Linked DNA regions of Homo sapiens. The protein of the gene in region 3 interacts with the protein of the main gene of each other region in a pairwise test. Each region holds a gene or a part of one and is shown on either strand. Other genes may lie near its edges. The genes, in order: LUZP4, ZNF829 and TLK1.

What was found.
Region 1: the proteins of TLK1 (region 3) and LUZP4 interact in binary tests that used the Homo sapiens proteins (3 or more experiments, as listed by UniProt).
Region 2: the proteins of TLK1 (region 3) and ZNF829 interact in binary tests that used the Homo sapiens proteins (3 or more experiments, as listed by UniProt).

The regions. Positions count from the first base shown.
Region 1 is NC_000023.11:115,292,685-115,296,437, reverse strand, and holds part of LUZP4 (leucine zipper protein 4), read right to left. Parts: intron 1-3,753. UniProt on the Homo sapiens protein: Export adapter involved in mRNA nuclear export in cancer cells. Binds and enhances the RNA-binding activity of the nuclear RNA export factor NXF1. Can restore mRNA export function in cells compromised by loss of mRNA export adapters.
Region 2 is NC_000019.10:36,895,633-36,899,385, forward strand, and holds part of ZNF829 (zinc finger protein 829), read right to left. Parts: intron 1-3,753. UniProt on the Homo sapiens protein: May be involved in transcriptional regulation.
Region 3 is NC_000002.12:170,993,202-170,996,954, forward strand, and holds part of TLK1 (serine/threonine-protein kinase tousled-like 1), read right to left. Parts: intron 3,560-3,753; coding exon 3,452-3,559; intron 756-3,451; coding exon 579-755; 3' UTR 1-578. UniProt on the Homo sapiens protein: Rapidly and transiently inhibited by phosphorylation following the generation of DNA double-stranded breaks during S-phase. This is cell cycle checkpoint and ATM-pathway dependent and appears to regulate processes involved in chromatin assembly.

The DNA.
Region 1 (3,753 bases), on a different chromosome or scaffold from region 3:
ACTGAATCCACCTAGAGAACACTTAGCCAATCTCTCAAGGAGAGACATTTGATCCAGGCCTCACCAAAGAGCCTTAAATTTGAATTCTTGATATACTTACTCTCAGAAATAAACTGTCAGGACTGAAGAAAGACAGTATTCCTCACACAGTTTAAAACTGATCACACTGCTTGAGGTGCCATATGAATAATTACATTTTTATTTAAATTGCATAATTAATTTTCTTGTGAAAAGTATACTTATATTGCATTTTATTTTACAGTGGGTTGAAACCACTATTTTATATTTATAAACATGTAAAATACACCACAATTTTTGTTTTGCCATTTTTTAAATATTTAAAACACTGGAAACCTCAAAAAATGTAAGTGACTTAGGTTCCTCTCAACTTCTGAAAAATTCTGACTATACATACTTCCAGAATACTTAAAACAATGTATAATTGCACATATTTACTTAGCTGTCTCTCCAGCTAGATTAGGAGGTACTTGAGAAGAGACCACTGTTTATTTACTAGTGTACTAAGTGCCTAGCACAGAATACAGAGTGGATAATCCATATTTGTGGATTCGTGGTCCAACATATCTAGCAGGCAGAAAGAGTTCTTTTCTTTCTAACTACAACACTTTTGCATCAGTCTCTTTTAGGTAAAAGTAATTAACAGGGGAGTGGAGTTCCTATTAAGTTCTTGCTGTTACCAGTTCGAATTTTGGTCTTATTTTTGCCTTTTATTTGTTTTAAAAAAAAAAAGGACTCTAATACTTTTTGGGTATGTTTACTGAGGGCAAAAACAAAAATAAATCTGTAGAGCCTTTTCCTACTTTAGCGTGTATTACAATGGAAGTAATAACCTTGCATCCAACATACTACTGCTTTTCTAAAGCATGTGTTTAGTTATCTAAAAACAAAGATATGCATTGTTAAAAAGTATTATTTTCACTGAGAAAAACATGGGGAAATTTATCAGGAAAAAGTATGGCGTTCTCATTACATCATAGAAAGCAACATGTATTTGCTATTTATTGTGTATTTTTCTTGCCTTCAAACTGCAAGGGCCTCAGCCTGGCACGGTGGCTCACGGCTGTAATCCCAGCACTTTGGGAGGCCAAGGCGAGAAGATCGCTCGAGCCCACGAGTTCGAGACCAGCCTGGGCAACATGGCGAAACTCCGTCTCTACCAAAGAAAATACAAAAATGAGCCAGGTGTGGTGGTGCACACCTAGGGTCCCAGCTACTCTGGGGGCAAAGGTGGGAGGATCGCTTGAGCCTGGGAGGTCCAGGCTGCAGTGAGCTGTGATTGTGCCACTGCACTCCAGCCTCAGCGACAGAGACCCTGTCTCAAAAAATTAAATAAAAGTAAAAATAAAATAAACCGCAAGGGCCTGTGATAACTAGTCGAAAGTTTTGCTGTTCCTCCTGACATGATCAAAACTGGGATTCTCATCTGTCTAAAAAGGTATAAATATGGATATAGAGAACCAATGTTTAAAATATGGATATAGAGAACCAACGTTTAAAAGGATAAAACAGTGACCTCAAGATTTTTTACAACTCGGTGACTATGAGATCTTACAGTCATACTTAATCTCCAACTAACCTACCAAATTCAACTCAACATCTTTCCTCAGCCTTTCAAATAACTGAAGCAATCTTTCCCAAAGCAGACTCTCCAGTATCCTTCCAGCTGTAATCATCTACTAAAATATAAGTGCCTCCTAAGTCCGTTTACTTCACTATTATTCAAGTTACACGACACCACCATCTCTCTCAGTCTCCCAGAGACTGACGTGAGCTGTTTAAACCCCATCTTTCACCTAGATGGTTTTTAATCTCTTTCATGTCTACTGTATCTATGAAGTTTGATAACAAAATCCTAAGAGGAGAGGTAACTTCTCCAGCTTGCCAAATTGCTGGCTACCCAAACGTGAGCGTTTAGGCCCACTTTCCGGGGCACATATAGCAAATATTTACTCAGCTTTTTCCACGTCAGGCAGCATACTTTGTGAACATTACCTGTATTCTCTCATTTAATCTTCAACAACTCTATGATGTAGATTTTATTCAGATCAGGAAACTCAGGCCCCAAGAGATGGAGCAACTTGCACAAGGTCACACAACTACTACATTTTTGGGACCAAGCCACTCTGCAACTATGGCCCTTATTTCTCTGAATTTTGAGATAAACCCATTGCTTTAGCTATTTATCAGTTTTGTTTTGTCTTTTCTGTTAGCAGTTGCAAAAACATCAGTGAAATCAACACAAAGAAAAGTGCAGGAAGCATGAAGTTTTACCTCAGTGCTATAAATTCCCTTCAGTTCTAGGTTTTTCTCCCTTCAAGGTCCCAGTGACAAGGCAGGGCCTAGAGTGAGGTAAGTGAGGAATTCAGGCACAAAATTCAAGGAGGTCCCCCAAAACTCAGTAATCAAGATTAAAATATCTCAACACAATATTTTCTTTTTTTCAATCTTTTTTTATTTTTTTTTTTTGAGACGGAGTCTAGTTCCATCACCCAGGCTGGAGTGCAGTGGCACAATCTCGGCTCACTGCAACCTCGGCCTCCCGGGTTCAAGCAAATCTCCTGTCCCAGCCTCCCAAGTAGCTGGGACTACAGGCGCCTGCCTCCACGCCCGGCTAATTTTTGTATTTTTAGGAGAGACAGGATTTCACCATGTTGGCCAGGCTGGTCTCGAACTCCTGACCTCAGGTCATCTACCTGCCTCAGCCTCCCAAAGAGCTGGGATTATAGGTGTGAGCCACCACGCCCGCCTCACAGTATTTTCAAAAATAAAAATCAATGCAAAACCAATCCGTGATGAACAAAATATCAAGCTTTTTTTTTAAAAAAAGGATAGTATCAAAGGCCGGATGTGGTGGCTCACACCTGTAATCCTAGCACTTTGGGAGGTCAAGGTGGATGGATCGCTTGAGCCCAGAAGTCGAGACCAGTCTAGGCAATATAGTGAGAACCCGTCTCTACAAAAATACAAAAAAATTAGCTGGGCGTGGTGGCACACGCCTGTATCCCAGCTACTTGGGAGGCTGAGGTGGGAGGATTGCCTGAGCCCAGGAAGTCGAGGCTGCAGTGAGCTGTGATAATGCCACTGCACTCCAGCCTGGGTGACAGAGTGAGATCCCATTTCAAAAAAGAAAAAAAAAAATAGGATCAGATCAGACCCTGTACTTGCACAGCCCTCCTTCACTTGTTTCACTCTAGTTCTTAGGTCAAGAAAACTTTATTTACAAAAACAGGTGGCCAGACAGATGGCTGTAGTGTGTCCATTTGATTTTTTAAATATTTCATTAAAATATTAATTATCCCTATTAACAAATTTTTTTTTTGTGACTCCTTGAACTTTATACTGGAAGCAAGTGCCTCATTTACCTCACCCTAGTCCCAGCCCTGGCCAGTGACCAAATATTATTTTTAAAGTCATTTTAATGCCACAAAATATTTCAGAACTTGTGATGAAGTTGGGGTAGGGGGAAGTAGCAGTATGGGATCAACAGGGACCATGTCTTAGAAGAGGAAATTGATACCGATCTTAAAATAGATTGCTAAAAACATCTTAAAGACAACAACAACAAAAAATACTTAGTTACTTTTCAGGGCCATTCCCCCTCAGAAGTAAAGTGGGAGGCAGGTAAATTCCTCAACCTCATAAGGGCATCTACAAAAACCCAACCAAAGGTAAAATGATGATTAATGGTGAAAAACTGAAAGCTTTTCTCCCTAAGATCAGAAACAAGTCAAG
Region 2 (3,753 bases), on a different chromosome or scaffold from region 3:
AAAATCATAGACTGAAAGTGAAGAGATGAAAAAAAAATACTGCACACAAACAAACCAAAAGCAAGTGAGAGTAGCCATACTTAAATAAAACAGACATTAAGTAAAAAACTGCAAAAGAAGCAAAGAAGGTCATTATATAATGATAAATGGGTCAATTCAGCCAGAGGATATAAAGTTCTAAATTTATAGGCACTCAACACTGCAGCACCCAGATATATAAGCAAATATTATTAGATCTAAAAAGAGAGATAGGGCTGGGCATGGTGGCTCATGCCTGTAATCCCAACACTTTGGGAGGCCAAGGCGGGAGGATCACTTGAGGTCAGGAGTTCGAGACCAGCCTTCCCAACATGACGAAACCCTGTCTCTACTAAAAATACAAAAATTAGCTGGGTGTGGCCAGGCGCGGTGGCTCATGCCTGTAATCCCAGCACTTTGGGAGGCTGAGGCAGGCAGATCACGAGGTCAGGAGATTGAGACCATCCTGGCTAACATGGTGAAACCTCGTCTCTACTAAAAATACAAAAAATTAGCCAGGCATGGTGGCAGGCACCTGTAGTCCCACCTACTCGGGAGGCTGAGGCAGGAGAATGGTGTGAACCTGGGAGACGGAGCCTGAAGTGAGCCGGGTTCGCACCACTGCACTCCAGCTTGGGTGACAGAGCAAGACTGTCAAAAAAAAAAAAAGAAAGAAAAAAAAATTAGCTGGGCGTGGTGGCATGCACCTGTAATCCGAGCTACTCAGGAGGCTGAGGCAGGAGAATTGCTTGAACCTGGGAGGCAGAGGTTGCAGTGAGCCAATATTGTGCCACTGCACTCCAGCCTGGGCGACGGAACTAGACTCTGTCTCAAAAAAACAACAACAAAAAAAGGTAGACTCCCATAAAATAATAGTACGGGATTTGAACATCCCACTCTCAGCATTAGACAGTTCATCTAGATAGAAAATCAACAGCTTTGGATTTAAACTGGATATTAGACCAAATGGACCTACCAGACACTAACTGAACATTTTATCCAACAGCTGCAGAATACACATTGTTCCTATCAGCACATGGAACATCCTCCAGGAAGAGACCATACGTTAGGCCATAAGACAAGTTATAACTAATTTTTAAAAATTGAAATCATATCAAGTATCTTCTCAGACTACACTAGAATAAAACTAGAAATCAATAACAAAAACTTTGTAAACCACACAAATAAATGGAAATTTAAACAATGTGCTTGCTCATGAATGCCCATTGGGTCAATTAAGAAATTAAAGATCATCAAAGACTACTACAGGCAACTATATGCTAACAAATCAGATAACCTAGAGGAAACAGAAAAATTCCTGGATACATGAAAACCTACCAAGACTGAACCAGGAAGAAACAGAGCAGAAGAACCTGAGCAGACCAATAACGAGTAATGAGATTGAAGCAATAGTAAAATGTCTCCCAACAAAAAAAGCCCAAGACTAAAGGGCTTTACTGCTGAATCCTACCAAAATTACAAATAACTAACCTCAGTTTTTCTCAAACTATTCCAAAAAATGGAAGAGAAGTTAATTCTTCCTAATCCATTCTACAAGGCCAGCATTACCCTGATACCAAAACCAGAGAAGGACACAACAACAACAACAAAAAGAGGTGATATCCCTCATGAACATAGACACAAAACCCCTCAATGAAATACTAGCAAATGAAATCCAATAATACAACAACAAGATAATATACAACGATTAAGTGAGATTTTTCCTGAAAAGTGCAAGGATGGCTCAACATAAGCAAATCAATAAACATGATGTATCAGATCAACAGGATGAGGGATAAAAACCATATGATCAGCTCAATAGATGCAGAGAAACATCTGATAAACTTCAACGTCTCTTCATTATAAAAACCTCTCAACGATTAGGCATTAAAAAACATAACATAATAAAGACCATATATGACAAACGTACAGCTAACACCATACTGAATGGGGAAAAGCCGAAAGCTTTTCCTCTAAGAACTGGAACAAGATAAAGAAGCCCACATTCACCACTATTATTCAATATAGTACTGGAAGTCCTATCCAGAGCAATCAGGCAAGAGAAAGAAATAAAAGGCATCCAGATTGGATAATAGAAAGTCACACTGTCCCTTTACAGATGACATGATCTTACATATATTTAAAAACCTAAAGATGCCACCAGAAATTCTTGGAACTGATCAATGAAATCAGTAAAGTTGCAAGATACAAAATCAATATACAAAAATAAGTAGTACGCTGGGCACGGTGGCTCACGCCTATAATCCCAGCAGTTTGGAAGGCCGAGGTGGGTGGATCACTTGAGGTCACGAGTTTGAGACCAGCCTGGCCAACATGGTGAAACCTTGTCTTGACTAAAAATACAAAAATTGGCCAGGTGTGGTGGCAGGCACCTGTGGTCCCACCTACGTGGGAGGCTGAGGCAGAACTGCTTGAACCCAGGAGGTGGAAGCTGCAGAGAGCTGAGATCATGCCATTGCACTCCTCCAGCCTGGGAGACAGAGCAAAACTCTGTCTCAAAAAGGGAAAAAAAAAGGATTTCTATACATCCACAATAATGAATTAGCTGAAAAAGAAATCAAGAAAACAATCCCATTTATTAATATAATAGCTACAAAAAACAACCTAGAAATAAATTTAACCATGAAGTGAAAGACCTCTGTAAGGAAAACTACAAAACACAGACAAAAGAAATTGAAGACAACAAACAAATAAAAAGATATTTGCATGCTTATGCACTGGAAGAACTATTGTTAAAATGAACATACTTCCCAAAGCAATCTACAGATTCAATGCAATCTACAGATTCAATGCAATCCCGACTGAAATGCCAGTCAGTTTTTACATGAACAGGAAAAAAAATCCTAAAATTTGTAGGAAACCATAAAAAATGCCAAATAGCCAATGCAATCTGTAGCGAAAGAACAAAAGTGGAAGAATCAAACTTCAAAATATACTACAAAGCTGTCGTAACCAAAACAGCATGGTACTGTCATAAAAATAGACCCAAAGACCAATGGAACAGAAGAGAGAACCCACAAATAAATCCATGTATTTATAGTCAACTGATGGTTGACAAAGGTGCCAAGAACAGACATAGGGAAAAGGACACGCTGTTCAATAAATGGTGCTGGGAAAACTGGTTATCCATATAGTGAAGAATGAAACTAGACTGTATCTCTCACCATATACAAAAATAAACTCAAAATGAATTAAATACTTAACTATAAGACCCCAAATTATAAAACTACTGCAGGAAAACATAGGGGAAACACTTCAGAAGAATAGGCAAATATATTTTAGATAAGACCTCAAAGATATTTTCAATAAGGGGCAACAACAAAAAAATAGACAAATTGGACTATATTGAACTAAAATGCTTCTGCACAGCAAAGGAAACAATCAGCAGAGTGAAGAGACCTGTAGAATGGGAGAAAATATTTGCAAACTCTTCACCTGAGAAGGGACTAATATCCAGAATTAACAAGGAAGCAAAAAAACTTAATAGCAGTGCCATAGCGGCTCATAACTGTAATCCCAGCACATTGGGAGGCCAAGTCAGGAGGATCACTTGAGGCCAGGAGTTCAAGACCAGCCTGGGGAACATAGGGAGACCCCCCCCGATCTCTATAAACAGTTTTAAAATTAGCTAGGTATAGTGGCATGCACCTGCAGTCTTAGCTACTTAGGAGGCTGAGGTGGTAGAATCACTTGAGCCTGGGAGTTCAAGGATGC
Region 3 (3,753 bases):
AAATGACAAAGCCTAACTTTGTCCAAAGATTCTAACTCTCACATTCTATTACTATAAAACACAACTGTCACTGTCATTCAGTTCTTACTTTGGTTTCAGCAGATTAACTGCCAAATGCTGAAGAATGTATCCAGGCACTATAGTTCGTATGTTAGAAATATGTCTCATATTTTTCCATGTGTTTTTAAATAATGAAAAACTACCCTTCATATTAGAACTCTCTAGTAACAACCAAATGTATTTAAGTATTATAAACGTTATTTACAGTGTTCCCCCAAATAAACAAAATTTTTTTCCTCTATCTTAACATGGTATTCCTGTTTCTGTGTAACAGGCAGTCATCCTTCCTTCACTGCTCAAAATTATAGTCAGAAGTGTGCATTTATTCATTGTCCATGATCCTCTCTCATACAAATGACACTATGAGGAACTTCAGTTCACAAACAGTTCTTAACCACGTCTTGTGTAAAAAAAAAAAAAAAAAAAAAAGAAAAAGAAAACAAACACTCAAATGCTCTCAAACTTAAGTGTGCATCTGGAAGCAAATTCAAAGATATCATGCCAATCTTGGAGGAAAGTCAGTAAGTAATTATGCTTGAAGAAGGGGGTGTAGGGGATGCTGTCAGCCCAGCCATGTGTAGGTTTCCTGAAGAATTTGATCTTCTCATGTGTGGGAGAAGGTATGGGTCATTTGCCAGCTGGTGCACATCAAATCGATCTTCTTTTCGATATGCCAAACAGCGTCTTATAAATGCCTCAAAAAGAGAAAGGAAATGTTAGCAATTAATGATCTTTTTCCCTTCTAAATATCAATCAACTGAATCAGCAGAAGGATGGACACATTTAAGACATAAGTAGATCTCATTTTATTGGAAGTTCAAACCTTAAAAAAAAAATTCTGTAGCTAGAAAATTCTCACTCCAAATGCAACTCACTGCTTGAAGCCCCTGCAGTGGTTCACTTTACAGTCTAAATTACTACTGCAACCATTTGAACTTATACTGGAAAGTTGTTTCTGCTTACGAAATTCTGAAGACTTTTTTCTAGCATTTTTCTTCTGCTAAACAGTCCTCCCACCCTCATCCCATTTTGTTATCACTTCAGTTTAGCAAAGGGTAAGATGCCATTTTCAACCATTATTTTTTTTTCCTACTGACATAAAGACTTTCTTTAGATGAAGAGATCACTGAAGGGACACTTTCATTAGGGACATTGTTTCCCAGGTTAACCCTATGCATCATTACACTCCTGGAAAAGCTAAATAAACAGAATATAATCACTATTTTTTTTTTCTCAAACCAATTTTACTCAGTTTTTCTTTGAGAATAGCCTCTTACAAAAAAAAAAAAAACCTTTCCTGAAGTGTAACACATTTTTAGAAATGCACACAAATCGTTAAGTGCATAGCACAAAGTAAATACATCTATGTAACTGGCAACCAGATCAAGAAAAAGAACCTCTGAATCCCCCTCATGCCCAGTTCCAGGCACTGGCTCTGTCCCCAGTCGAACCTGGGTTAACCTTTATCTTGACTTCTAAAACCATAGTTGAGTTTTGATTGTTTGAATTTTATATAAATAGAATTATAAATTATGTTCTCCTTTGCCAGGCCTCTTTCACCCAATATTAAATTTTGAGGTTCATCCTTTTTTGGGGGGGGAGGGAACAGATAAAATATTCTCAGGAGGTAACTGGTAATTGTTTCCCTTTCTTAATGCTGACACTAGAAATTAATACATACCATTAAACAGAAGTATAATCACATTAAAAGGTAACTATTTTGCACTTTCTTTGCTTTGAAATTCATTAGAAGTATATTTTTCTCTAAAAATATACCTAGCTATTCTCATTTTACCATAGCTTACTGTTTATTGGAAGTCAATCTGATCCCTTAGAGGACTTATCTTTTTTATCTTTAACAAAGTTTCAGAGATCACTTTGAAAAATGATTAAGAGGGAAAAAAACATCAAGACTGATATGTTAGAGTTTGAGGAGTGGAAAGGCTATCAATAGCAAGGTTAAGGTTAAGTCTGCAACAAATAATGTACTTAAAGATGCCCACACCAAGTCAGGGAAAGTACTTGGCAAAGGTATCTTCTGTAGGGATACAGAATATAGAGATATTATATATTACATTAAAATATTAAAATTTATATCATATAATTGTATCATATTAATATTATATCCCCCCAACAACCCCTTAACCCTTCCTGGATTCCAGATCTCTAAAAGGTGACTGTGGTGCCTATTAAGAGCCTAAGGAGAGAACCAGGAATGGCTAAATGAGACTTTGCCTTTGGCAACTCCACTCCTCCTGGTCTTTTCAGTCAGTATTAAACAAACAGATCATGAATCAACTAAATTCATTTAATTTCTGTTCTCAATGAGGCTACAGACAGAAAATAAGACAAGATTTAGATGTCAGCACAGTTAAAATATTTTTAAAGGAGTCATATTTATCTTACAAAAATAATTCATTTTGCTTTCAAATAAGAATATTTATCTCTTTTGTTTTTTTGAGAATGGGTCTTGCTATGTCGCCCATGCAGGAGTGCAGTGGTGCGATCTCACCTCACTGCAACCTCTACCTCTTGGTCTCAAGCGATCCTCCCAGCTCAGCATCCTGAGAAGCTGAAACTAAAGGCACGGGCCCCTACACCGGGCTAATTTTTGTATTTTTAGTAGAGATGGGGTTTCACCATGTTGCCCAGGCTGGTCTCGAACTCCTGGGCTCAGGCAATCTGCCTGCCTGGGCCTCCCAAATTGCTGGATTACAGGTGTGAGCCACCGCGCATGGCCTATTTGGTTTTTTTGAGACAGGGTGTCACTCTGTCCCCCAGGTTTGAGTGCAGCGGTATCGTCATGGCTCACTGCAGCCTTGACCTCCCTGAGCTCAGGTGATCCTCCCACCTCAGACTCCCAAGCAACTGAGACTCTAGATGTGTGCCACCACGCCTGGCTAATTTTTGTATTTTTAGTAGAGACCGGGTTTCACCATGTTGGTCAGGCTGGTCTCAAACTCCTGACCTCAGATGATCTGCCCGCCTTGGCCTCCCAAAGTGCTGGGATTACAGGTGTGAGCCACCACGCCCAGCCTTATTATTACTTTTAATATTTCTTATATACTTATATATCTCAGTATTAACATAAGCAGATAAAATAATACATAAAAGGTAATGATGAGCCCAGATCTTGTGATTTTTCCCTAATTTTCAAAGTAGCAGCTGATGAACATAAACAATCAGAGACCATAGCTTAAAAGATAAAAACTATAGCAACCAGAGGCTGATGCAACTCCTTCTCTGAAAGTAAATCACCAGCCCCTGCTGGACAGATCCCCTGCAGCAGCGAGTCTTGTGACTTTACTTACTGGAAAGTACTTACCTTGTTGTCAGCACAACTGATGAAAGAAAAGTTACTTCACAAAACTCATTTACAAAAATTTAATACCTTGGCTTCACTGCTTACAACCGGTTTTACAGGGAACTGGACTTCTGTGGCTTTTAATATTGTATTTTCTTGAAGAATGTCTTGTTGAGATTGATTGTGACCAAATGGCTTAAAAAAAAAATTAAATGTTGAGATACTTTTCTCACAAAATATTTAAACACAGATATCATTTCTGTTTAAGCGAATTCCCAAAACCGAAAATCCAAATATCTTGTGTTCTAAAATCTTCCTCAGTTATTTGAAACCTGAGATGAATTCTCATACAAACAAGCTATAATTGATAGCAGGCCAAGAAAGCCTAC